Regions from separate parts of the Homo sapiens genome. Here regions 2 and 3 are each linked to region 1. Evidence: fine-mapped expression QTL. A gene starts in region 1. Each other region holds a variant in brackets. All regions are shown on one strand. Distances are from middle to middle.

Region 1 (10,346 bases):
CCCTGCCTCAGCCTCCCAAAGTGTTGAGATTACAGGTGTGAGCCACCGCGCCTAGCCTGCCATTGAAGATCTTTTAACTAAACGTGTTGTAATTTTTTTTGATACTTCTCCCACACCCATTCTCCATCTGGGCCTTTGGAGCCAGACTGCTTGAGCTGGCATCCCCGCTCTGACAGTCCCTAGGTGTGTGCCTCCGTGGTATCATCCCTAGAATGAACATCCTCATAGCACCTTCTTCTTACAGTGCTCTCAGGATTAAATAAATTCACAGAAAAGTGCTTAGATCCTGGCTAACACGGTGAAACCCCATCTCTACTAAAAATACAAAAAATTAGCCGGGTGTATTGGTGGGCGCCTGTAGTCCCAGCTACTCAGGAGGCTGAGGCAGGAGAATGGCGTGAACCCAAAAGGCGGAGCTTGCAGTGAGCTGAGATCGCACCACTGGACTCCGGCCTGTGCGACAGAGCGAGATTCCGTCTCAGAAAAAAAAAAAAAGGGCTTATGGCATGCCTTGAGCATAAGAAGCCCTGAGGTGCTAGCTATCTGCTACTATTATCGTTATTGTTTGTCCAGGGCAAAACTGAGCTCTCTGGCCGGGTATTGGGGCTCATACCTGTAATCCCAGCACTTTGGGAGGCCGAGACGGGCGGATCATGAGGTCAGGAGGGCAAGACCATCCTGGCTAACGTGGTGAAACCCCATCTCTACTAAAGATACAAAAAATTAGCTGGGCACGGTGGCATGCGCTTGTAGTCCCAGCTACTCGGGAGTAGCTGAGTGACAGAATAAGACTCCGTCTAAAAAAAAAAAAAAAAACTGAGCTCTTTCTCTATGCTGTTTTAATTTTTTTTGTGGTTTTGGTTTTGGTTTTTGAGACAGGGTCTTGCTCTGTTGCCCAGGCTGGAGTGCAGTAGCACAATCACTGCTCTCTGCAGCCTCCATCTCCCAGACTTAAGCAATACTCCCACCTCAGCCTCCCAAGTAGTTGGGACTACAGGCGTGTGCCACCATGCTCAGCTAATATTTTTTTTTTTTTTTTGAGACGGAGTCTCATTCTGTCACTCAGGCTGGAGTGCAGTGGCGCAATCTCTGCTCACTGCAACCTCTGCCTCCCAGGTTTAAGCGATTCTCCTGCCTCAGCCTCCTGACTAGCTGAGATTACAGGCATGTGCCACCACACCCAGCTAATTTTTGTATTTTTAGTAGAGACGGTTTCACCATGTTGGCCAGGCTGGTCTCGAACTCCTGACCTCAAGTGATCTGCCCACCTCAGTCTCCCAAGAGCTGGGATTACAGACATGAGCCACTGCACCTGGCCTCCAGCTAATTTTTGAAAATTTTTTGTAGAGATGGGGTCTTGCTGTGTTGCTCTGGATGGTCTGGAACTCCGGGATCAAGCAATCCTCAGCCTCTCAAAGTGCTGAGATTACATTTGTGAGCCACCATGCCCAGCCCACTGTGCTATAAGATACAAACCAGGCTGGGTGCGGTAGCTCATGCCTGTAGTCCCAGCACTTTGGGAGGCCGAGGTGGGTGGATCACGAGGTCAGGAGTTTGAGACCAGCCTGGCCTATATGGTGAAACTCCGTCTCTACTAAAAATGCAAAAATTAGCCGGGAGTGGTGGTGTGCACCTGTAGTCCCAGCTGCTCAGGAGGCTGAGGTAGGAGAATCACTTGAACCCAGGAGGTGGAGGTTGCAGTGAGCCGAGATCGCACCACTGCACTCCAGCCTAGGCAACAGAGCAAGACTCCGTCTCAAAAAAAAAAAAAAAGATACAAACCAACAGTGCACAAGTCATAGGAGAACGACTCAGCAAATCCCCACAAACTGAACAAACGCATCACCCATATCTCAGAGCTTCCCTTGTGTCTCCTTTGAGTCACTACTGACCCTGGAGGGACCACTCTGTAGATCACTTTGCCTGTTTTTGTACTTTATATAAATAGAACGCAGTGGATGCTCTTTCATGCCTGGCTTCCTTCACTCACCATTATGCTTGCAAGATTATCCACATTGTTGCTGACAGCTGTAGACAGTTCTCAATGCTGTGTACTAATCCACCGGGTGAATACCTCACCCACGTTCTGCTTCTTGCAGGAGAAACGAGTGCTCAGACTATAATCATCCTTTGCCCCAGCACAACTGGCGATAGGGGAGTACAGCTTGCAGACATCTACAGGCTGCGGTTACCTGTGAGCTCGTAGTCCTTCTAACAGCTGCCTCCCTCTCCAGAAGGCTGCCTCCTTGAGAATGCAGGCTGCAAAGGCCAAATCACTGTCAACTTGTTGCTCAAACCAGGCCTCTGGGCTGTGAACAGCCCTCTCGGGCAATGTGGGTGCTGGCAACAGCTGCAACCATGTCTAAGGCTGGTTCTAGGAGGTGTGCAGAGAGATGGGCACAAGGCAGGCGTGGGCTGACAAGGGCATTCCGAAGGAAAGTGCTGCAGTCTGGAATGTCACCTCCCCTGCTCTGTGCTGGGTGCTGCTCCTGGTGAGGAAAGGCCACAGCAAACCGGTCAGTGGGGGCATGGGAGTCCCTGTGGGGCACGTCACAGGCCCCACCTGGACGACCCATCTGACTCCATCGTGGGTCCTCTGAGCCTGCCCCAGCACAGCTGCCTTGCCCCAGGGCCCTCAAGTAGCCTCACAAATCCTGCCTGGGTTTAACAGTCTAATAATCAAGAAACTCCTGACCGGGTGAGGTGGCTCACACCTGTAATCCCACCACTTTGGGAGGCCAAGGGCGGCCGATCACTTGAGGCCAGGCGTTCAAGACCAGCCTGGGCAACATGGTGAAACCCCATCTCTACTAAACATACAAAACTAGTAGGGCATGGTGGTGCACGCCTGTAATCCCAGCTACAGGCTGAGGTGGGAGGATCCCTTGAATCCAGAAGGCAGAGGTTGCAGTGAGCCGAGATCGCGCCACTGCACTCCAGCCTGGGCAACAGAGCGAGACTCCGTCTCAAAAAAGAAACAGACCTTCTCACACCCAATAAATAGAGAGATGGGGAAGGATGAGAAGAGAGTGGTCTCAGAAAAGGAAGTAAAGTGGCTCTAAGAGCAGGAGAGCTGCTTATTTTCACAGATAAATGAACTTAAAGAGGCACCGAGTTTTTTTTTTTATTTTATTTAAAAAAAATTTTTTTGATACATATTAGATGTACTTATTTTGGGGGTACATGTGATAATTTGATATAATCAAATCAGGGTAATTGGGGTATCTGTCACCTTTTCTTTTTCTAATACTAGGAGCATTTGAATCATTCTCTGTTGTGGTAATCAGATCCAACACCAGGTAGTGGGGGTGATGAAGTCCGGCAGAGTCAAAGGAATGAGAAAAAGACAGTTTGAGAGAGAAAGTGGGACCAGGGGACCATCGCGAGTGTGGAGGCTGTGAAGGCCCCTGGGCACTGGGAGCCCAGGCTATTTATTGGTGCTCAAAGAGGTGGTGAGGATGTGGAGGTTGAAAGGAAATAGTGTATCAAGTGAACGAGAAACATACAGCTGCTTGAGATAATGGGAGTGCTAGAAGCAAGGAGCCAGCAAGTCTAGCAGACATGCAAGTCCTGCCTGAGCTTCTCTCCCAACACTCAGCTTTTCTCCCAACAATTCTCTTCTAGCTATTTGGAAATGTACAATCAATTAATGTTATCTATAGTCATCCCACTGATCTATTGAACACTAGATCTTATTTCCTCAAAGTGGCACTGAAATTTTGTCATGTTTCAGAGTGTTGGAAAAGAATGGTGGTCTCCCATTATTGGTGGCAATATAAATCGGCACAACCTTTGTGGAGAAAAATTTGGAAATCTCAAAATTACAAATGCAAGTGCCCTATGGTGCAGCGATTCTACTTATAGTTGATTCTATGCAGATGCTGGTGAAATTGTATTCCAGTATTGGCTGTAACTTAAGCAAAAGATGAGAGGAAGGAAGGATCCACCTTTTTTTTTTTTTTTTTTTTTTTAAGAGAGTGAGTCTTGCTCTGTCACCTAGGCTGGAGTAGGGTGGAACAATCTCAGCTCACTGCAATCTCCGCCTCCTGGGTTCAAGCGATTCTCTTGCCTCAGCCTCCCGAGTAGCTGGGGTTACAGGCATGTGCCACCACACCTAGGTAATTTTTGTATTTTTAGTAGAGATGGGGTTTCACCATGTTGGCCAGGCAGATCTCGAACTCCTGACATCAGGTGATCCACCCACTTCGGCCTCCCAAAATGCTGGGATTACAGGCATGAGCCACCTCACTTGGCCAGGATCCACTTTGGATGTAGAAACCCATCAATAAGGAATTGGTTCAACCATGGTGCATTTATTTGCAAGGAAGAGAGGGAGGAGAGAAGGGAGGAAGGCAGGCTGGCTTTTTATGGTATTATTATGAAATCACCAGATTACATTGTTAAGTGAAAAAGGCAAAGTGGAGACCCCGGAGCTACATAAGCTACCACTTGTGCTAAAGGGGAAAAATATAATATTTGCTTTTCTCTGCATGGAAAGTTTTTGTTGTTGTTTCTTTGTTTTTGAGACAAACAAAATGCTGTCACCCAGGCTGGAGTGCAGTGGTGTGATCTCAGCTCACTGCAAGCTCTGCCTCCTGGGTTCATGCCATTCTCTCCTGCCTCCTGGGTTCATGCCATTCTCTTGCCTCAGCCTCCCGAGTAGCTGGGACTACAGGCGCCCCCCACCACGACCGGCTAATTTATCGTATTTTTTAGTAGAGACGGGGGTTTCACCATGTTAGCCAGGATGGTCTCCATCTCCTGACCTCGTGATCCGCCCTCCTTGGCCTCCCAGAGTGCTGGGATTACAGGCGTGAGCCACCGCGCCCGGCCAACCTGGAAAATTTTGCAAGGAAATACAGAAATGGGTAACCTCAGGGGAACACTGAGTACATAGGCTGAGGGTCAGGAATGGGAGACTTTTATCTTGTAATGTTTGGATGTTTGAATTATGTGAATGTATTACCTGTTTTAAAAATAGATATTTTAAAAACACACACATTGGGGCAATCAGGAATGTATGGGGTGTGGTTCTGTTCCACAACTCCAAGGAGGTAGACAGGCATGTTTTACACCAGTTCAAGATGTACATTTATGTTTTATGTACTTTTCGGTAAATTGTATTTATTCCACAATTGAAAAGAACAAAAACCCTAGCGACTCATGGAGTGCTGCCGTGTGCCAGGGTGGGCCTGGCCCCAGTCCCTTGGAACCCTCAGAAGGAAGAAGTCCAGACAGGTTCTCTGGGCCCTTCCTTGCTGGGCAAGCACTGAGGTGGGAGTGGAGCATGGACCCCCTCAGTCTGGCGCGGTGCGAGGCTGGCCTGGCTGGCAGCGCCTCCCGGCGGCACTGTTGCCCTGTCCGCAGCTGTAGCGTCTCCTGTTTCCTGGGCGCCTCTATTCCATTGTTGGCCGAGGGGGTCAGGACCCGCCGCCTTCTGCATTATTGATGGTCCTGTAAGGCGGGCACCTCGGGGAGTAGAGCCTGTAGCCCCTGCGAGAGCAGAGCCGGGTGGTGCACTGCACAGAAGGTCACCGCGGGAGGCCAAATCCCCGGGGAGGGGAAAGGACCTGGGCGTCGGGAAGCCCGTCTCCTTTGGGCCAGCCATGGGCAGGAACCAGCGCAAAGCGCCCCAGCGCCTGGAGAGGCCCGGGAGGCCGGCCTCAGGGGAGCAGGAGTCGGGGTCGGCCAGCGCGGATGGCGCGCCCAGCCGGGAACGCCGTTCCGACCGCGGGCAGGCGGACAGGGCGAAACCGGCGGCCGAGCCTGCCACCGCCGGGGGCCAGGGAACCCCTGGTGGCCGCAGGAAGCCCACTGCAGAGGGGAACGGCGGCTGCAGACGCCCAGGGGCTGGGCTGTCCCCGAAAGCCCAGGAGAGGCAAAGCAACGCGCAGCGTCAGGGACGCGGGCCCAGGGGCGGCCGCGGGGGGCGCCTGGAGGAGGGAAGCCTCTCCGGAGGAGAAGAGCTGGGCGGCCGCCGTAGGAGGAAGCGGAAAGATAAGGGGCCCTCGGCTCGGCGGGGCCGCCGGACGCCCAGGAGCCTCAATGGGGACACGTCGGGTGGGGACGGAGGCAGCTCCTGTCCGGACAGCGAAACCCGCGAGGCCCAGGAGAGCGGCAGCCAGCGCGGCACAGCCCGGGAGCTGCGGCCCACGCCGGAGCCTACGGACATGGGCTCGGAAGGGACAAAAACCGGGCCGGAGTCAGCGCTGGAGCCAAGCAGCGACGGCCTGGACAGCGACTGGCCCCACGCAGATACCCGGGGCCGGGAAGGGTCGTCGGGGACGGGGCCCCTGGGAGCCAGCGAGCATTCCGGCGGGGACTCCGACTCGAGTCCGCTGGGGACCGGACCTGGACGGGGCTCTCGGGCAGCTATGGCCTCCAGGACCTTCGAGGACAGCTCGCGGGCTCCTCGGGACACTGGGCCGGCCAAGGACGCGAGCGACAACCGGGCGCAGCGGGGCGCCGAGCCAGAAACAATGCAGGCCTCGACGGCCCGGGCTCCGCGCCACCAGGTCGGAAAGGCGGTGGGGCAGGTGCCAGCGGCGGCAGGCGAGGGCGAAGCGGGAGCCGCAGCAGGAGCGGGGCCGGAGGACCCAGCCCCGCTGGCGGCCCTCCTGGTGGTCCGCAGGCTCCTCGCGAGGCCCCCGCCAGGCGCCGCTTCCCAGGCCGTGGGCCCCCGCCGCGCTGGCCTCAAGGAGCGGCTCCTGAGTGTAGCGCGAGCCCTGGGCCTCCTGCGCTGGCTGCGGCGGCGGCTGCGGCTGCGGCGGCGGCCGCCAGAGGGCGAGGGGCAGGGTACCGGGCCACGGGCGAGCGAGGGGTGGGGCCGCCGGAAACCGGACGAGGGGCGGGGTCATGGGAGAGGAAGCAAGGGGCGGGGCCGCGGGAAAGCGGATGAAGGGCGGGGCCACGAGCGAGGGGACGAGGGTCGGGGCCGCGGGAAAGCGGACGAAGGGCGGGGCCACGAGCGAGGGTACGAGGGGCGGGGCTGCGGGAAAGCGGACGAGGGGCGGGGTCACGAGAGAGGTGACGAGGGCCGGGACCACCAGAGAGGGTACGAGGGGTGGGGCCGTGAGCCCGGGCTGCGGCACCGTCTAGCGTTGCGCCTGGCTGGCTTAGCAGGGCTGGGGGGTATGCCGAGGGCTTCCCCTGGTGGCCGCTCCCCGCAGGTCCCGACAAGCCCAGTCCCCGGCGACCCTTTTGATCAGGAGGACGAGACTCCAGATCCCAAGTTCGCGGTCGTGTTCCCCAGGATCCACAGGGCAGGGCGGGCGTCGAGCAGCCGCAGCTCTGAAGAAGCGTCCGCAGATGCCCCCACGGGGGAAGGCCGAGGTTGGCCTCGTGCAGGGGTGGGGGGGCACAGTGAGGGGTGCAGGACGAGTGGGGAAGGGGTGTCCGGGCTTCGTCGCGGCTCCCTCCTTGCCCCGACTGCACCCGACGGGCCTTCCCTCGACGAGAGCGGCTCCAGCAGTGAGGCGGAGTTGGAGACCCTCAATGACGAGCCCCCGGTGCGCTGGGCGCAGGGCTCAGGCCCCCACGAGGGTCCTAGGCTTGGCGCCGCCGTGCTGCTACCCCGACTCTCCTTGGAGACCCGCCTGCAGCAGGAGGGAGACCCGGGCCTCCGTGGGTCCCTGAGGGAGCTGTGGGAACCCGAGGATGAGGACGAGGCGGTGCTGGAGAGGGACCTGGAGCTGAGCCTCCGGCCGGGCCTGGAGGCGCCACCCTTCCCCGGTGCCAAGGGCAGGAGCCTCGGAGACGGCCTGGAAGACATGGAGGACCTGGCGCGGTTGCGGTTAGCGGGCGCGGTGCCAAAGCTGCCATCCCCGGCTCACAGCTCCTCATATCCACCCTGCCCTCATCTTTATGAATTGCGTGTAGACCCTTATTGAATCCTTAGAAGGATGGGCTTGAACCCTCCTGGCAGGAAGGGGCAGGTAAGGGGCAACAGGTGCTACGTCCCCAGGACCGCCTTTCTAATTAGTACAAAGCTTCCTTCTGGGTCAGAGCCAGCCCTCCTTGTAGCCTGCGCATTACTTGACAGCTCAGCCCCCATTTTATGGATCAGGCTCTGGGAAGTTGAATGACTTGCCAGGGTCCCTGCAGTGGGTGGCAGAACTAACCCACAACCTCCTGCAGCCACAACTTGTCATGCCTCCACCCTGTTGTCCCTACAGGCTGGTGTGTGACAGCTCTGTGCTGCTGTGCCTCAAGAAGAGATTTCACCTGGGCCGTATCTATGTATGGGGAGCCACGGGGACGGACAGTGGGCGGGGATCCCCTTTTCTCTGGGGACAGAGGGCTCCCTGGCACCCCTGGAGATTCTCCTTCCTCTTCCTCCCCGGGCTAGGCGGTGAACCCTCTCTGGAGCCCTGCAGAGTGGGACTGAGGGGCTGGGCTCTGTTTGCATTCCCCCTGCTCCCTCCACACTCTGATGAGAGCTTGTTTTCCTCCCCAGACCTTTGGGGGGCCTGTCTTGCTTGTTCTGAACCCCCACCGGTCCTTGCCTCTTTTTTCACCTGAGGTCCAGGCAAGCTACCACCCCAGGAAGGCCCTCAGCACCACTCCGTATGTGACTCTGCCCCACTGACCCTCTGCTCACCTCCCAGGCAGCCCAGTCCCTGCATGTCCCCTTGACTGAGGTCCCGGGGCCTGTGAGCACCTCTGCTACACCTCGGAGGGTCCCAGGTCCCCATGTCTGGCAACCTTCTCATCTCCCTCAGACACATCTTTGCCATCGTGGCATCAGCCTATGACCTGGCTCAGAATACTGGGCAGGACCCATGCATCCTCCTGTGGTGAGTGGTGGCCTTCCTGGGTGGCTGAACCCATGGGCCACACTGAGGGTTGATGGGGCGGGGCCTGAGGTCTTCACTGGAAGCCACTGGTATGCTCCACTGCTGGGCTACAGTTCTGGACTCCTCAGGGCCGAGCTCCTGGCTGAAATCATCACATGAGCCCCTGGAATGTGGCATCTTGGGGACTTTTTCTTTTCTGTCGGGTCTCTCCATGCCCTGGGACTATCTTTCCACATTTATGGGGGTCTCTCCAGGCTAGCTGTCACTTCTGGGTGGCACATCCCACTTCCTGGGTTCACTGGGGTGGTCCTATGTGCCCCTCCCTGGAGACCCTACCAACCAACACATCCTTAGCTCCTCCCACTGCAGTGGGCACAGTGGCTCAGGGAAGACGGAAGCCGCCAAAAAGATCATGCAGTTCCTAAGCAGCCTGGAGCAGGATCAGACGGGGAACCGAGAGTGTCAGGTGAGGGCCAGGCTGGAGGTACCTCATGGGTTGAGCTGGCCGTCTGTCTTCCTCCAGGGGACAGCTGACCATGTCCAAGGGACTATCTTTCTCCTTTCAGCCAGGAGAGGGGTGGTCTCCAGGCCTCTGGCGTCTCCTGGGGTCAGCTGCAGGCACTGCCCTTTCTGATGGGACTGACGCCTCCCTGGACCTGCCCCTAGCTGGGATGCCTGCTGGTGGGGGCTACTGCTGCCCAGGGATGCTTGAACACCCCTCCCTGTACAGGTGGAGGATATGCTGCCTATACTCAGCAGCTTTGGCCATGCCAAGACCATCCTCAATGCCAATGCCAGCCGCTTCGGCCAGGTCTTCTGCCTCTACCTACAGCAGTGAGTGGCAGGGTTGCAGGGGGCACCTACAATCACTTACCCTTCCTGGGTCCTTGGGCTGCTTCCCTGGGGTCCAGACCCTGGTAGGGCTTCTTCTGCACGGGGCCCCTGGGTGTTCTGCATCCTGGGCACTCACACCCATCTTCTGTGCCCACAGAGGGGTCATCGTGGGAGCCTCTGTGTCTCATTATCTACTTGAGACCTCCAGGGTGGTGTTTCAGGTAAAGGCAGCCCTTCTATCCACCCCTGCCCAGTTCCCAGAGTAGGAAGGGCAGAGGGTGTCACTGTCGGGGTGTGGCCTCTAAGCCCCTAGGGCACTGAGCCCCTAAGCCAGTCCTGTCCCCAAGGCCCAGGCTGAGCGGAGCTTCCATGTTTTTTACAAGCTGCTGGCAGGGCTGGACTCCATAGAGCGGGAGCGGCTCTCCCTGCAGGGACCGGAGACTTACTACTACCTCAACCAGGTCGGGGGAGCCCTTGTGGTGCGGCGGGGAGGCCTGCCCAGAGGAGGATCTCGGCCCGGAGGTCTGAGGAGTAGCCGGAGTAGAGGGAGGCTATGGGGTGGCAGGCCCCGCTCCCTCACCCCTGCTGTGCTCTGCAGGGCCAGGCCTGCAGGCTGCAAGGCAAGGAGGATGCCCAGGACTTTGAGGGGCTGCTGAAGGCACTGCAGGGGCTCGGCTTGTGCCCAGAGGAGTTGAATGCCGTCTGGGCTGTGCTGGC
Region 2 (8,000 bases), 31 kb after region 1:
GCCCCAGCCTGGGTGACCCTCAGCCTTGGCCACCCCCTTAGCTGGATCCCGTTTCCTGCAGAGCCGAGGCCATTCCCCTTGCCCCTGGCATTCAGGCCCCCTCACTGCCCCCAGGACCCCCTCCAGGTCCAGCCCCAACGCTGCCCAGCAGGGACCACACAGGTAAGGCTGGAGTGGGCACATGGAGGTTGGCAGAGCATGGGAAGCCCCACGCCCCGGGCCATGGCTCCAACCCTCTCCCTGCCCCACAGGGGAGGTCCAGAGGTCAGGGAGCCTGGACGGCTTCCTGGACCAGATCTTCCAGCCAGTGATATCCTCCGGCCTCAGCGTGAGTCGGGCACAGCCCCCAAATGCCCCTGCCCCAACCCCCCGGGGCCTCTGCTGCCCCTTCCATTTTTCTCAGGGCTCTCACTCTGACCTGTGACCATTGTCCCTTTAGGATCTGGAACAAAGCTGGGCTCTGAGCAGCCGCATGAAGGGAGGGGGCGCCATTGGGCCCACACAGCAGGGCTACCCCATGGGTGAGTGAGGGGCTGATTCCTCACCCAGGGCCTCCGGGCCCGGCAGCATGGCAGGCATGGCCTGGGACCCCTCTGGCAGTGGCGATCGATGCCCTGGCCAGCACCCCGGTGCCCGATGCTCTTCTCTGTGCCTGGGGCTGGAGGGAGGTGGCATGTGGGCCCAGGCAGGGACTGACAGGGAGGGCGTGTTCCCTCAGTGTACCCAGGAATGATTCAGATGCCTGCATACCAGCCAGGCATGGTCCCTGCACCCATGCCCATGATGCCAGCAATGGGCACAGTCCCTGCCATGCCAGGTAAGTCTGGGCTGGGGGCACCAGAGTCCCTTCTCAGGAGAGCAGCCACCAGCTCTGGGACTGGAGGAGGGAGGGTCCTGCTAGGAGTCCCGAGTGCACAGTGGGCAGCGAGCTTCAAGGCTGGCCATGGTGCCCACCACTCTGGCCGCCTGCCGCCCTCACAGCCATGGTGGTGCCGCCGCAGCCACCGCTTCCCAGCCTGGATGCAGGGCAGCTGGCCGTCCAGCAGCAGAACTTTATCCAGCAGCAGGCGCTAATCCTGGTGAGCGCTGGCAGGGCCCTGGGGCCACCTGGTGGAGGAGAGGTCTGTGGCTCGGGGATGAGGGTCTGAACTGGCTGCTCCTCCTGCTTCAGGCCCAGCAGATGACAGCCCAGGCCATGTCCCTGTCCCTGGAGCAGCAGATGCAGCAGCGGCAGCAGCAGGCTCGGGCCTCCGAGGCTGCGTCCCAGGCCTCACCCTCAGCCGTCACCTCCAAGCCCAGGAAGCCCCCCACACCCCCGGAGAAGCCACAGCGTGACCTGGGATCAGAGGGTGGCTGCCTGAGGGTGAGGAGGTGACCATATTCTCAGGAAGGGATGTGAGGGTGGGGACTGCAGGGGCAGGGGACATGGGCAGGGTGAGTAGGCAGACACAGGGAAGAGGCTGCTGGCCCAGGACTGGGGACCCGAGGGGTGTGGCGAGTGTGGCACCCAGGCTGGCTGAGCTGCCACTCATTTCTGCTTCTGCCAGGAGACCTCCGAGGAGGCTGAAGACAGGCCCTATCAGCCCAAGAGCTTCCAGCAGAAACGGAACTATTTCCAGAGGATGGGTGAGGGCACTTGGGGTGGCAGGACCGTGCAGAAACATGGCCAGTGCCCCTGGCCCGGGCCAGGGAGGGTGGGGTGTGCTCTGCTCCCCGGAGTTGGTGCGGCCCATCCAGGAGCCCAGCTGGGCCAGTATGGGTAACTTTGAAGGCCATCTGGACACTTGCAGGGCAGCCACAGATCACAGTGAGGACGATGAAGCCCCCGGCCAAGGTCCACATCCCCCAGGGGGAAGCGCAGGAGGAGGAGGAGGAGGAGGAGGAGGAGGAGGAGCAGGAGGAGCAAGAAGTGGAAACAAGAGCAGGTTGTGGGGAGCTGGGCAGGGCCTGGGGCTCCGGTGGCTCTGCACGCGGTTAACAGTCTTTCCTGTTTCCTGGTCAGTGCCGTCCCCTCCTCCTCCCCCCATCGTGAAGAAGCCATTGAAGCAAGGTGGGGCCAAAGCTCCAAAAGAGGCTGAGGCTGAGCCAGCCAAGGAGACAGCGGCCAAGGGCCATGGCCAAGGGCCAGCCCAAGGCAGGGGGACTGTGGTGCGCAGCTCAGACTCCAAGCCCAAGCGGCCACAACCCAGCAGGGAAATTGGCAACATCATCCGCATGTACCAGAGCCGCCCGGGCCCCGTGCCTGTGCCCGTGCAGCCATCCAGGTGGGCCCCCACGGGGAGGTGGCCAGGGCTGTCCCGCTCCTCGGGGAATCACCCTATGAACTTAGTGACCTCTTGCTTCTCCCACGAGGCCTCCCAAAGCTTTCCTGAGGAAAATCGACCCCAAGGACGAGGCTCTGGCCAAGCTGGGTATCAACGGTGCCCACTCGTCCCCGCCGGTGAGCACCCCAGCCTGTCTCCCCCAGAGTGTGTGCTGCTGCACTGGGGAGCTCAAGGCTCTCTGGGGCGAACTTGGCCTTGTGCTGTGACTCAGCCCGTGTACTTTCTCCGTATCCCCCCAGATGCTGTCCCCCAGCCCAGGAAAGGGCCCCCCGCCAGCTGTGGCTCCTCGACCCAAGGCCCCGCTACAGCTTGGGCCCTCTAGCTCCATCAAGGAAAAGCAGGGGCCCCTTCTGGACCTGTTTGGCCAGAAGCTGCCTATTGCCCACACACCCCCACCTCCACCAGCGCCACCACTGCCTCTGCCCGAGGACCCAGGGACCCTTTCAGCAGAGCGTCGTTGTAAGGAACCACATTTCTCCTGCGCCGTGGGCTTCACTGGGGCAGAGGCAGGGTTCGCACAGACTCTCGGTGCCCAGGGCTGAAGGCATTTCTGCGTGGCTGAGGCCAGCTGTTCGGGCTTCTGGACTTTGGAGCCATACGTAGCTGGGGAGTCCCAGCTTCCGCGTTCCCACCCAGGGCAGGGCCTGGGCATCTTTGGGGCTGTCATCGAGAGGCTGTCACACACAGGGTGTTGTCCCTGACACATACCCGACAGCTCTGTGAGGAAGTTAGTGGCCCTGGCTGACATGGTCATAGAAGACCCACGAGCCTCACGGACGCCAGGGAAAGTTTAGGGCCCAAAATGGAGGCAGGAGATGGTGCCATGGAAGGAGTAAGGCAGCTGGAGGTTGGGAGAGCCGGGCCCTTGGAAGGCTCGTGGGGATGAAGGTCTTCCCTCCCGTGCCCCCATCACTCTGGCTCTGCAGCCCCTCACTGAGGCTCCTCACCCCCTCCTCTCTGCCAGGCTTGACACAGCCCGTGGAGGACCAGGGGGTCTCCACCCAGCTACTCGCGCCCTCTGGCAGCGTGTGCTTCTCCTACACCGGCACGCCCTGGAAGTTGTTCCTACGCAAGGAGGTGGGCATGAGGGTGGGGCCTTGGCCTGGCCTCTTTGGGCTGGCAGGGAGGCGGCAGGCTTTGTGCATCCCAGCCTGGGACCCCAGCATCCCCTCCCCACAGCCCACCATCTCAAGGCTGATTTTCCAGGCCTGGGAGGGCAGAGGCTTGCTGGGAAGAGGCACCAGACCCACCGATCTTTGCCCTTCTGTGCCCTCCTCCAGGTGTTCTACCCACGGGAGAACTTCAGCCATCCCTACTACCTGAGGCTCCTCTGTGAGCAGGTGAGAGCTGGCCCACCTGCCAGCCTGAGACATCTGCAGAGACAGCATCCTTCGTGCCCTTTGTCTAATGGCTGGGCCAGGTTAACACCACGTAGGGCATGTTGGCAGCCAGCACTGGGGGGCACTTCTGTGTGCCCAGACCTGCCTTCATTGAACCTTCACAACATTCCTGAGAAGTAGGGACCATGGCCAGGTGCGGTGGCTCATGCCTGTAATCCCAGCACTTTGGGAGGCCAAGGCAGGTGGATCATGAGGTCAGGAGTTCGAGACCAGTCTGGCCAACATGGTGAAACTCCATGTCTATTAAAAATACAAAAATCAGGCGTGGTGGCAC[G/A]CACCTGTAACCCCAGCTACTTGGGAGGCTGAGGCAGGAGAATTGCTTGAACCCGGGAGGCAGAGGTTGTAGTGAGCCGAGATTGTGCCACTGCACTCCCGCCTGGGTGACAGAGCGAGACTGTGTCTCAACAACAACAAGAAGTAGGGACCATTATTCATCTAGTTTTATAGATAAAGTTTAAAAGCAAAGTGCGTACAGTGCACAACACAGGCTCTAGCACACAGTAGGTACTTAATAAATGGTTGTCACTTTGCCACCTCTGAACGCTCCCAGGAGTGAGCCTCTGTTCCCCCTAATTCTGCAGTAGCACCTGCCCCCTGCCCCGAACAATCTTGTATCTGGGCTGATCCAAGGGCAGTTACCACGGGGTCTCTGGGCAGTGAGTGAAAAGGGAGGGCTGGCAGTTGCAGGGGAGGGGACAGGTGAGACGTGTGAATGGAGGTGGCCCAAGCCCTCCATCCCTCCCTGCCCCACCTAGGCCCTCTGCTGAGCACACAGGCCATGGGGGCCAGGGCGCCCTCCATCGGCCTCCTCAGGTTTTCCTTCATGCATGTGGATGGCTGCTCTGGGGGTGGGCTCTGTCTCAGGACCTGGTGGTGACCACCTCGCTCTGCCCCCAGATCCTACGGGACACCTTCTCCGAGTCCTGTATCCGGATTTCCCAGAATGAGCGGCGGAAAATGAAAGACCTGCTGGGTATGGGTCCAGGGACCATGGAGTTGGGAGCTTGAGTGCTGGGGGCCGCGCCTGCCCTGAAGGAGGGAGCAGCATGGGAGCAAACTCTAGAGCCCCCTCTGTGTGAGCAGAGGGCAGCCTGGGTCCTTCCTGCCCACAGGAGGCTTGGAGGTGGACCTGGATTCTCTCACCACCACCGAAGACAGCGTCAAGAAGCGCATCGTGGTGGCCGCTCGGGACAACTGGGCCAATTACTTCTCCCGCTTCTTTCCTGTCTCGGTCAGTGGCGCTGGGGTAGGGAGTAGGGATGCCAGGCCCCCAGCCTGGATCCTGGGGTGCATGGGCACAGACCACAAGCAGGAGAGCCGGGGAGCAGACGCCAGGGGAAGGACAAAGCCCAGCCACTGGCCCTGGGCAGCTCCAGGGCATCTTGGGCAGTAGCAGGACCCAGGAGACTGCCCGAGACCCACCACCTTCCTGTAGGGCGAGAGTGGCAGCGACGTGCAGCTGTTAGCCGTGTCCCACCGTGGGCTGCGACTGCTCAAGGTGACCCAAGGCCCCGGCCTCCGCCCCGACCAGCTGAAGATTCTCTGCTCATACAGGTGCGCTAGCCCACGACCCTGGGCTAGAGGTGGGGGCAGGTGGCAAGGTGACCTCAGTTCATGCCCGATCCCTGCGCAGCTTTGCGGAGGTGCTGGGTGTGGAGTGCCGGGGCGGCTCCACCCTGGAGCTGTCACTGAAGAGCGAGCAGCTGGTGCTGCACACAGCCCGGGCAAGGGCCATCGAGGCGCTGGTTGAGCTATTCCTGAATGAGCTTAAGAAGGTAAGTGTGGGGCACGGGTTGAGAGGCCGGGCAGACAGCCCTCACCGATGCTGCATCTCCCTGTCCGTCTTCCCTGTGGGGGCAGGGGCTGGGAGTTTGGGCCAAATCCCTGGAAGTCTGGGGTGCTAGGTGGAGGGGCAGGCCAGCAGGGGGAGCAGGTGGGCAGGCAGGACAGGGAGGCACAGGCAGACTTGCTGCTCCAGGCCCTCGCCTGCTTGCCCACAGGACTCCGGCTATGTCATCGCCCTGCGCAGCTACATCACTGACAACTGCAGCCTCCTCAGCTTCCACCGTGGGGACCTCATCAAGCTGCTGCCGGTGGCCACCCTGGAGCCAGGTATCGCCAGAGGCCGGCAGGGGCTCACACAGGGAGGGCATCCACTTGGCAGAGGCTGCCCGGGGGCAGAGGGTCCAGTGGGTGAGCCACATCCCTGGGTGCCTTCCAGGCTGGCAGTTTGGCTCTGCCGGGGGCCGTTCCGGACTCTTTCCTGCCGACATAGTGCAGCCGGCTGCCGCTCCCGACTTTTCCTTCTCCAAGGAGCAGAGGAGTGGCTGGCACAAGGGTCAGCTGTCCAACGGGGAACCAGGGCTGGCTCGGTGGGACAGGGCCTCAGAGGTGAGGAAGATGGGAGAGGGACAAGCAGAGGCAAGGCCTGCCTGAGACTGAGGAAGGAAAGGGGTTTGACCACTCCCGAGGCTGCCATGCGGTGGGACCACCCTGCTGTCCGTCTCCTGTGGCTGCCCCTCTGCCCGCTCCTGATGGCTCGCCTTGTCTCTCCAGCAAGACTGTGCACTCCTTGCAGGCAGGGGCTGGGCTGGATGCTGCTCTTGTGTCCCACGTGGTACTTAGTTCAAGGCTGCCCCAGCAGATGCTTAATAAACAGCTCTTCACTTTCCTGGCTTCTGGTCTTGCTCCTTTGGTGTCTGGCTGGGGAGGGATGGGGCTGGGGCAGGACCCCTGGGACAGGGCACTGGACACTCAGGTGGCACCAGGTTTCTTGTGATCCCAGCGCCCTGCCCACCCTTGGAGCCAGGCACACAGTGACGACTCGGAGGCCACCAGCCTGTCCTCTGTGGCCTATGCCTTTCTGCCCGACTCCCACAGCTACACCATGCAGGAATTCGCCCGGCGTTACTTCCGGAGGTCCCAGGCCTTGTGAGTGCACTGGGCCAACCCCTGTGCCTGTCTGTCCTCAGTCTTCCTGAGAGAGAGCACCCTGCTCAGAGCCACTGGGCTGTGCTCTTAGCACTCTCCCTGCCTGGCTGGCTGGGATGAAGGCAGGAGGGCCAAACAAGCTGGGCTGTCTCCCTCTGCCCCCCACAGGCTGGGCCAGACTGATGGAGGTGCCGCAGGAAAGGACACGGACAGCCTGGTGCAGTACACCAAGGTGGGAGAGAGGCAGGGAGGGGTCTGGCCCGTAGATCTGCCCTCTGACCCCCACGGCCCCCCAGACCCATGGCCTCCTCTCTTTGGCCACAGGCTCCCATCCAGGAGTCGCTCCTCAGCCTCAGTGATGATGTGAGCAAGCTGGCTGTAGCCAGCTTCCTGGGTGAGTGGCCACAGGCATCCTGGGTCCCCATGTCTGCAGTGCCATGAACCTGGGTGTCTGGTCCCCTTATCTCCTTGAGCTCTGCCTGGCTCTGTCCCAGTCTGCCAACTCCGGGAAGCTCACTGGTGGTTCCTGGACCCCAGGGCCCTCACCCGCTTCTACTCCCACTCAAGGGTTGTGGGTTGTGTGGAGTCTGGGGTTGGAAGGCAGTCCATGGGTCCAGAGGATGCTATGTGCTGTGTGGGGCCTTGGATACCCAGGAGCCTCAGTTTCCCCATGAGTCGAGCTGCAACCAGCTGCCCTGGCTGGCATCTATGCATTTTGAGAGTGAGGCATCAGATGGCAGGTGAAGGCCCTGCACAGCAACAGCATGAGCCGGGGCCAGCCCCAGCACAGCCCCAGCTATGTGCCCTGTTTCTTATCGTGCCTGCAGCCCTGATGCGGTTTATGGGTGACCAGTCCAAGCCCCGGGGCAAGGATGAGATGGATCTGCTCTATGAACTGCTGAAGGTAAGCCTGGGCTGTGCGACCCCCAGCGCCTGTGCCTGTCCTCCTGTCTGGGCCTGAAGGAGATCCCCTTCTCTTGGTCACTGTCCTTCAAATCATTCCAAAGTATTTACTGAGCACCCATTGCGTGCAGGGGGGTGTGGCTGTGAAGCCAACAGGCTAAGTCTCTGCAGTGCTTACAATGAGATAACTTATGTGTCTGGGAGTGAGAGGTCACTGGAGAGTAAGAATGCAGGGAAGGGGCTGCTGCAGTGGAGAAGGCTTTGTGGCAGAAGCCTTCCTACAGGGAGGGAAGGAGTGAGCACGGGGTGACAGAGAAGGGCAGGCAACAGTTCAGATGTGGGGGGAAGCCTCGGCACCATCACGCACCGGGACCAGCGTGGCTGAGCCTAGTGAGCTGCAGGGAGAACGGAGGATGAGGATGGGGAGCGGATGGTGGGTCCA
Region 3 (8,000 bases), 42 kb after region 1:
GCCTGTACTGCCGCATTGCCCTGAAGAGCCTGCAGCGGCTCCACCTGCTAAGCCCTCTGGAGGAGAAGGGGCCCCCTGGCCTGGAAGTCAACTATGGCTCAGCTGACAACCCCCAGACCATCTGGTTTGAGCTGCCACAGGTGAGTGGCCAGGCCTCTGGCCACCTTGCGAAGGTGGATGTGAGGGCCTTGCCCCAGCATGGCGTGCAGTGGGAGCCCAGGCCCAGGCCGATGCCCACTGCTCCGGAGTGCTGTGGGCCGGGGCAGAGGCGAGGGGCTGGCTGGGGAGCCCTCTTGTAACAGGCCTTTCTCTGGGCAGGCCCAGGAGCTGCTATACACCACTGTCTTCCTGATAGACAGCAGTGCCTCTTGCACTGAGTGGCCCAGCATCAACTGAGAGGAGTGCAGGCCGGGGAGAGAAGAGGATGAGGCCTCCCCCGGCCCAAGTCTCACCCACATGGTCTGCCTTGGATGCTATCAGATCACTGTTCTAGAACCTGCCTCAGCACAGCCCAGCCGGCCCACATGCAGGCCATGAGGCAGGGGCTGCTATCACGTCACCAGCAGGCAAAGAAAACAGCCAGACCCTCTCCAGGACGGCCTGGGGCCAAAGCGGGCTGCAGGAACTCGGCTGGGGCACCTGAGGTTGCCCAGTCTGAGGGAGATGCCCACCCGACCCCAGGCTCCGCCCAGGCCCCACATTAGCACAAGCCCAGGCATGGGAGAAACAGCTGCTGAGGAAATAAAACTCCCTGGAGAAAAGGGCTGTGTGCACGCCTGCATGCCCCACAACAACACAACTTTATTCCTCTCCCAAACATCTGTCAGGCCTGGCCTTCCTGAGCAGGAGCTGAGCAGGAACAGGGCCTGGCTGCCTCTCCTCTGCCACAGCTCTGACCTGGGCAAGGCTGGAAGCTGGCATCGTAATGGATGGGGGAGTGGGTGGAGGATCTGAGGGTCCCCTGGGTAGGTTCCGATACCTTGGACAGGTGGGCCTCATCCTGACTTAGAACTCGGGGAGGGGCCACTCTTCCTTCCCCTTCTTCCAGCAGCAGCTCCACCACCCTCCACCTTCTGTCCTCGACATGTGTCCCAGAAAACCCAGCCATGAGGACCGCTCTGAGAAGGGTCTATAGGCTTTGCAAGCAGAAAGAAAGGTGGGCTGACCTCTGACCTGGATTCAGGGGGTGTCTGGGGTCATCCCCAAAGCCAAGTATGGTTGGAAAGGAGAAGGACTGAGAAAAGACGATGGCCCTGGCATCAGCAGGTGAGGCCCAGGATGACCCATGCTAGAATCTGGGGGAGGACGCGGGCCCTGCCCAGCCAGCAGTTGGTCATCTCTGGGGGCCACACAGGCCATGCCAGTCAGCTTCGCTCTCGCACCGGGCCCGGCCATGGAAGAAGTGCCTGATGAGGTTCTGGGCCTCTTCTTTCACTACAGATTCAGGGTGGGGGCATGAGGAGGTGAGCGTTAGCCTCCTCCCTGTAGACCACCCTCCCAAGTGCCTCCTGGCCCTGGCAATGCCAGCGCTCACCGCTCCTTCCAGGAGAGGTCTTCTGAGTCAGCAAGTGTGAGAGGTGGCGGGCAAAGCCTTTAAACAACTCCTGGAAGGGAGAGGGAGAAGAGAAGCAGAGAGCAGGACCCTTGGTGGCCGGGCGCAGTGGCTCACGCCTGTAATCCCAGCACTTTGGGAGGCCGAGGCGGGCGGATCATGAGGTCAGGAGATCGAGACCATCCTGGCTAACACGGTGAAACCCTGACTCTACTAAAAATACCAAAAATTAGCCAGGCGTGGTGGCGGGTGCCTGTAGTCCCAGCTACTCGGGAGGCTGAGGCAGGAGAATGGCGTGAACCCGGGAGGCGGAGGTTGCAGTGAGCTGAAATCGCACCACTGCACTCCAGCCTGGGCGACAGAGATAAAAAAAAAAAAAAAAGAGAGCAGGACCCTGCCCTGACCCCCAGAGCAACCCACGGCCATGACCCAACGGCAAGGCAGGCCCCAGGGAGGACGGGCGTGGGGCTGGCCCTAGGCCCACTGTGTTCTGGGGCTCAAACTCCCTGCCTCCCACCCCCACTACACCCACATACCCCAGGCATGGGAGAAGGCAGAGCCCACTCACTCCCCCTACCTTGGAAGCAAACTTGCCCTCCTTGTAGAAAGGGGTGAGGCACTTGACCACAACATTTGCAGCCTCCTTCAAGGAGACGCCAGGAGCGGAGAGCTGGAAGGGGTCTTGAGCCGTGGGATTCAAGGTGCCCTGTTCGCTGGCCGAGACGCTGCCCTTGACCTCAGCTACGACGGAGGGCTTGGCTGAGGGGCGTGGCCTCTTCTGAGGCTGGCTCTCTGGGTTCTCCTGAGAAGGGCCACAGCAGAGGGTCACTCCTGAGCTCCCTTCCACTGGCCTGCTCCCCTCCTCCAGAAGACTGGGTCCCCGCACCAGCTGCCTCTCTCCAGCCCAGCCCATCTGCTGCCAGGTGTGGAAAGAAAGCTGATTTTCCCTGACCCCTTGAGCAGGGCACAACAGCTCCTGGCCTCGCCCACAGCCCTTCTCTCCTCCCCAACAGACTCATCCCTGCCGGCACCTGCTGGGATCGAGGCCGCTTGCCCTTCCATGTGTCCTTTGCAGGGGTGGGCTGGACTTCAGGGGTGCCCTGGTCTCTGGGCGGGCAGGTGCTGGTAGAGGGAAGAGCAGGCATCACAGCACTGGGTCCTGGTGGCTCCCTCATCCCAGGAGGCCTAGGAGAGCCCATCTCAGGGGTGAGCTCTGAGCTTCAGACGCCCAGTGAGCAAAGGGGATGCTGCCGTGTAGGTTCCAGAAGATTCTATGACTACCTGTACCCTTACCTTGGCCTCTCCCTGAGGCACTCCTCAGTCTGGGGAGGGGCAGGCGAATGTCCCCCGGCTCCATCTTCCTCCCCTGTGTACTTCTCTGGGGCCATCGGGGGTCCCTGAACCCCCTCACAGGAGGGGCAGGCACCTTCTGCCTCTGGGGCTGATGCCAGCAGAGCTGGGCTTTCCACCCTTCGGCAGAAGAAGCGGGCGATGCTCTGAGAATCCTTGTGGGCCGCTGTGGCTAGGAGCTGCTGTTTCTTGCTAGCCCGGCCCTTGGCAAGGGAGCTGCCCCCAGAGGAACTTTTTGCCTTCTTCTCAGGGGAGGGCCCCCCATAGTGAGCGCTGCCTCCAGGGACCTCCCCTCTGGGCCCAGGGAGGGGCTCACTCCCATCCTCATCCAGGAGGCCACAGGGCCGGCTCGGGGGCTC[G/A]TGCTCGCCTCCCCGCTCGGGCTGGGGGGCTTGCTCCCTGATCCGAGTTGTCTCCATCAGTTCCGTGGCCGTCTGGAACGGGCAGGAGCCTTTGGGGAAACCAGCTCCCACCCGCTTGGGTTTGAGCTGTAAATGTGAGCAGGAGGAGAGGAGGTTCAGCCCACTAGGCCCCCTTGAGGGCACCGCTGGCTGGAGCAGTAACTCACATTGGGACGGGGCTCTCAGGAGTGTGGGAGGGAAGAGGCAGGCAGGACCCTGGTGGGGAGCCAGGCCTTGGCAAGAGGTGCACCCCTGAGGGCAGAGGGGAAGTGAAGCCTTTCCTGGTCACAGGTCTGGAGGCCACTGGGCCACAGCTCACCGAGTACACATGGGAGGCTGGTGGAATGTCATACTCATTGGGCTCCGGGGGCTCAGCTTGGGCACTGCAGCTCTTGGCACTGCCTCCCATGTCATAGGGCTGCCCATCCTTGGAGGCTCTGTGGATATCGGCCACCTGGGCAGGGATAGGCAGGGAGGCTGTGGCACCCGCCAGCTCCTCCTGACATGCCCCACCTAGCCCTCCTTTTCTACTAGGCACTACAAGTGGGTTTCTGTGGCCAGTGGCCACAGGCAACTGACCACTGGGCAAGTTTTAGGCCTCCCATCCTCACAGGGTTGGCTAGAAACATGTCCAGCCAGTGGAGAATGGAGCTCTACCCCCATAAACTGTCTCTGGGGTGGGCTGGGGAGGGTGAGTTCTGGGCTGCCTGAGCCCAGAGAGCTGGCAGACAGCTTCTGCGTCAGAGTATGGAGGGGCCCCTGCAACGACCCTGGGTCCGCCTGCACCAGGCCCACCTTCTTCAGCACGCTGGCCTTGTAGAGGTTGGCCACCTTGGCGTTCCGGAATGTCTCATGTTCCAGCTCCACGGCCTTGGCCCGGAGGTCAGCTCTGTGGGTGCAAGGTAACAGGCACAAGGTATCAGGTGGGCCTGGGCTTCTCCCTGCTGAGCTCTTGCGGGACTCCAGGCCTGGTGGGGTAGGCCTTGGGCACAGGGATTCTGATTAGGGCTCTCTGAGCACCCTGTGGCTTACTGTCCCTCAGCAGCTGCTGGTAGCACCTAAGTTGTAGCCATGCCTGGCCCTGGTGGGGTTGTAGGGGCAGTCCCCTGGAGTAGGAGAGGTACAATCTGGGGAGAGGTGGCCCAAACAGGCCAGGGTTGACAGGGTCCTGCAGTCTCCAAGGGAACGAGAGCTTGGAGTGCTCCTCAGCCCAGTGATCGTGGAACTCACTCATCAGCGGTACGTGTTGACTGGCGGTTGCTGCTCAGCGCCTCCTCCAGAAGCCGCAGGCAGTGCTCCCGTGCCTGGCACAGGACAGTGAGACTGGTCGCATGGCCTCGCGGCTGGGGGAGGGCCCCGGCGGGTGGCTGAGGAGCTGCCCGTCTCTTACCTTCACAGTCAGCCTGGGGATCCTCCTGCTAGAAGCCTCTTTCAGGGGACAGTTCTCATCTGTGGGGGGGGGGGGTGGTCCTTGGTCCTTTCGCTCCACCTTCTGCGCTCTGAGGTCCCCCACAGCCCGGATGAGAATCCTCCCTCCATGCCCCGGGAAGAGCCCACAAGCCTCCAGGAACATTTCTGTACTGACCTGGGGGTACAAATTCTTCTATCTTGGGGTCTTTGCCCTGGAGGACAACATGAAGGACCCATGAGGCGTCCTGCCCTGCCGCAGGACAGTCCCATCCAGCACCAGAGAAGGGGCTGAGAGGTGCGAGCAGGGGGCCACCAGGGGCCCCACACAGGCCACTGAGTGCCTCCCCTCACCTTGCGCAGCTGCATCTGCTTCTGATAGAAGAGGTTCCACTCCCGCTTGTGGGCCTCATCTCTGCCTTCATCCCCGCTGCCTCCAGAACCTTCGTCATACCTAGGGACAGGCCAGGCGTGAGTGGCCCTGGCCTGGGCTCTGCCCTCCCCATGTGTGCTGCTGCTAGAACGGCAATGTCCCTGATGTCCTACCAGCTCAAGGGGGGATTGCGGCATCGTGCCACCTCTGGTCTGGCCCTGGCGCCAAGGGAATGCCAGGCAATTCCAGCGGGTTGGAGCCCTGGCTTCTCGGCCCCTTACCTGCTGAAGTCCCCGTAGCCCTTGCGGCCTCCCTCATACAGCTCGGGGTCAAAGCCGTTCCCCTGGGAGGGCCCGATGCAGGTCTTGCTCCAGCTGCTGCTGCGCTCCAAGGCCTCCAGCCGCCTCCGCACGGCCGTGGGGTTCTGGCAGTGGTCGCAGCCTTTGGCGCAGGCAGGCAGCGCATCCCCGAAGTACTTGGCAATGGCGGCATGGCGGCACCTGGAGCAGGCAGCACCGCAGAGGTGAGGGGCGGAGAGCCCAGTCGGCCAGCGTCTGTTCACCCGAGCCTGAATCGCTAGCTGAGCGAGCACTGCCGCGTCCGGCACCATGCCGGGAGCCCCACACCCCTCATCTCATCCAAGCTGCACCAGGCATCGTTTGGCTCTCCCCACTACACAGATGAGGACGATAAGGTGAACCAACTTTCCCAAGGTCACGTAACACATGGGGGTCTCCCGGGAAGCAGGATGTGAACCCCACTCTGTCCAGTTACTCCTCTGCTCCTCCCCTCTGTCCTCTGGCAATGGGATGTAGATGCTGGCTCTGCCATGAAGGGTGTCTTTTGGGTGACACACTTCACCTCCTAAAGCCCATGCATTCCCGTCAGTAAGATGGTGCAGAAAGGCACAGCCCTCACGGACTGAGCGAAGATGGCTGAGGTGATGTCTGAAGTGCATTACAGTACAGTCATGCCCCATGGAATGACTGCACAGCCAATGGTGGTCCCCTACGATTCTAACACTGTATTTCTACTGTACTTTTTCTATGCTTATGTGTGCTTAGATATGTGAATACCACTGTGTTACAACTGCATACGGTACTCAGGACAGTAACGTGATGTACAGGTTTGTGGTCTAGGAGCAACAAGCTGTAGCGCATGGCCTGGGTGTGTAGGAGGCTGTGCCGCTTGATATTTTTTTCCTTCTCTTCCCTGGAATTGCTGTTTGATTTCCCTAAGTATACTCTGTGACCGCACAATGACAAGTTAAATTTCTCAAAACGTATTTGCATTGCTAAGGCAGGCACGGCTGTGTAGTAATATGTCCCATCATCAACCCGTGAGGGTGTCACAGGTGGGGCCTTTAGCCAGGGAGACGCAGCCTCGCCTGGAGTCCTCCTCTCGTCTTCCTCTGTCTCAACCCTGCTGCAGCCCTCCTGGGGTGAGCGGCCTCTGCCCATGCTGGGAGCAGGGAGCAGCCTCTGGCTGGCCCACGAGGCTCTGTCGCATCTCTGTTCCCTCTGCATGGGGGTGGCTGTCGACCCTTGGGGCAGCTGCAGAGGCCGCAAGAGGGGCCATAGCTCTCTCAGGCTCCTTATAAACAGCCATTCCTGCCACCAGGAACGTGGCACAGGGTAGGGAAGCCCAAGAGGAGATGCTGGAACACAGGCAGGGCTGTCTGGGGTGCCACATCCCAGGGACAAGAATAGCTGGCATTAACTGCTCTAACTAGAACTCCTCCCAGTGTGAGCACTGCTGCGGCTGCAAGAAGCCCTTTGAGGGGCTGCGACCCCAAGGCGCAGGCTCAAGGATGCAAGGCTGATTGCAACACCCCGGTAAGGAAGCAGGGCCTGGCTGACTTTCTTTTAGCTGAGTGAATGCAGCTCTGAAGCCTGACCTGGGCTGGGACAGCCGAGGCGGCCACCAGAGGGCGCTCCTGCCCCCACTCTGCTCCAATGAGTAAATGCAACAAATGGTTCATCCCCAGGAGTCCGTGCGCCCGCACAGCGGCCGCCTGTCCAGCCTCTGGGAGGCTCTGGCATCCGAGTGGTGTGACCACATGGCTGGCTTCCTCCCCCTGCCCTCCTCAGGCCCTGACTCACTGGGGTTTTGTGCTCGGACTCAAAGAGCTCCATTGACAGCGGGGCTGGGGTCGGTTTCTCTCCACACAGCCTAGCCTGCTGGGAGGCACAACCAGGCAAATGTCACAGGGCCCGGCCCCTGGACTCTGGAGCCCTGCCCTGACAGCTGGGCCAGGAGTGCGGTCACAGCCCCAGCAGAAGGCCCTCACCTCACAAGGAACATGAGGCGCCTTGCCGGGCGCGCAGGCCACTCCCAGGTCACTCAGGATTCCAAGTTCTCCCCCAAGACGCCTTCAGATGCTGAGCGGCACAAGGGCCTCCCCAGGGACTGGTTGCAAAGCCTCCTGCTCAGCTTGAGAGGGCCACCAGCTCCCCACTGTTTACTGTTGTTCCTGAGAGAGGCCAGAGGGAGGGACCAGCCAGGGAGTGGCCAGAGGGACAGAAGGGGTGGCCTTCCTGAGGGCAGGGTGGGTGCCCCAGACCTGAGAGCGCTGCAGGACTCCCCTCCACAGGCTCAGGTGGAGCCTCCCCAGGGTCCTCCTGGCCAGGAAGGCAGAGAGCCGACTTCTTTCTTCAGCTCCCAACCCAGGCCCAGCCCACGGCGTGGGAGTCGGGGAGAGGGAGAGGAGGAGGAAGGAGGAGGAGAGAGGGAGCTTGTCTTGTCCCTGAGCAGCGCTCTCAGGGCAGAGGTGAGGCACCGGGACATGAAGTTGGAGGACAAGTTCCCAAGCAGGGCTTCCTCGGGCTCCCCCTCGCGACGGTAATTTGACACTTGGATCTCCAGGACGACCAACAACAAAAAAGCCAGGCAGAGACAGCAGCTGGCTGTCAGCAGAGGA

The links. PIP is the estimated chance that this variant, and not a neighbour inherited with it, causes the effect.
Region 2: its variant is fine-mapped to the expression of MYO15B in whole blood (INTERVAL, PIP 0.97).
Region 3: its variant is fine-mapped to the expression of MYO15B in whole blood (TOPMed, PIP above 0.99).

Annotation. Positions count from the first base shown.
Region 1 is chr17:75,582,452-75,592,797 of GRCh38, forward strand. It overlaps MYO15B (myosin XVB), which reads left to right and starts at 5,349. Exons shown (of 64, transcript NM_001395058.1): 1 at 5,349-7,792; 2 at 8,175-8,238; 3 at 8,456-8,565; 4 at 8,721-8,795; 5 at 9,150-9,261; 6 at 9,526-9,629; 7 at 9,787-9,850; 8 at 9,977-10,090; 9 at 10,228-10,346. The coding sequence starts at 5,607. RefSeq lists enhancers at 5,165-5,998, 5,501-5,570, 5,999-6,830 and silencers at 6,451-6,580, 6,621-7,220.
Region 2 is chr17:75,614,522-75,622,521 of GRCh38, forward strand. MYO15B (myosin XVB) reads left to right here. Exons shown (of 64, transcript NM_001395058.1): 31 at 62-162; 32 at 252-328; 33 at 440-521; 34 at 719-817; 35 at 982-1,079; 36 at 1,172-1,363; 37 at 1,548-1,626; 38 at 1,791-1,925; 39 at 2,003-2,264; 40 at 2,353-2,440; 41 at 2,564-2,783; 42 at 3,289-3,401; 43 at 3,605-3,664; 44 at 4,622-4,697; 9 more. Among named protein-coding and RNA genes, the nearest start is that of SMIM5, 15 kb to the right of the region's middle. The variant G/A (reference allele first, on the strand shown) is at 3,999.
Region 3 is chr17:75,626,089-75,634,088 of GRCh38, forward strand. It overlaps MYO15B (myosin XVB), which reads left to right. Exons shown (of 64, transcript NM_001395058.1): 63 at 1-140; 64 at 319-761. The coding sequence ends at 396. RECQL5 (RecQ like helicase 5) reads right to left here. Exons shown (of 20, transcript NM_004259.7): 9 at 5,362-5,580; 10 at 5,062-5,161; 11 at 4,886-4,922; 12 at 4,691-4,749; 13 at 4,531-4,604; 14 at 4,096-4,189; 15 at 3,620-3,754; 16 at 2,846-3,387; 17 at 2,584-2,674; 18 at 2,130-2,354; 19 at 1,535-1,604; 20 at 766-1,434. The coding sequence ends at 1,334. It overlaps SMIM5 (small integral membrane protein 5), which reads left to right and starts at 7,346. Exons shown (of 3, transcript NM_001162995.3): 1 at 7,346-8,000. RefSeq lists enhancers at 6,418-7,098, 7,099-7,778. The variant G/A (reference allele first, on the strand shown) is at 3,262.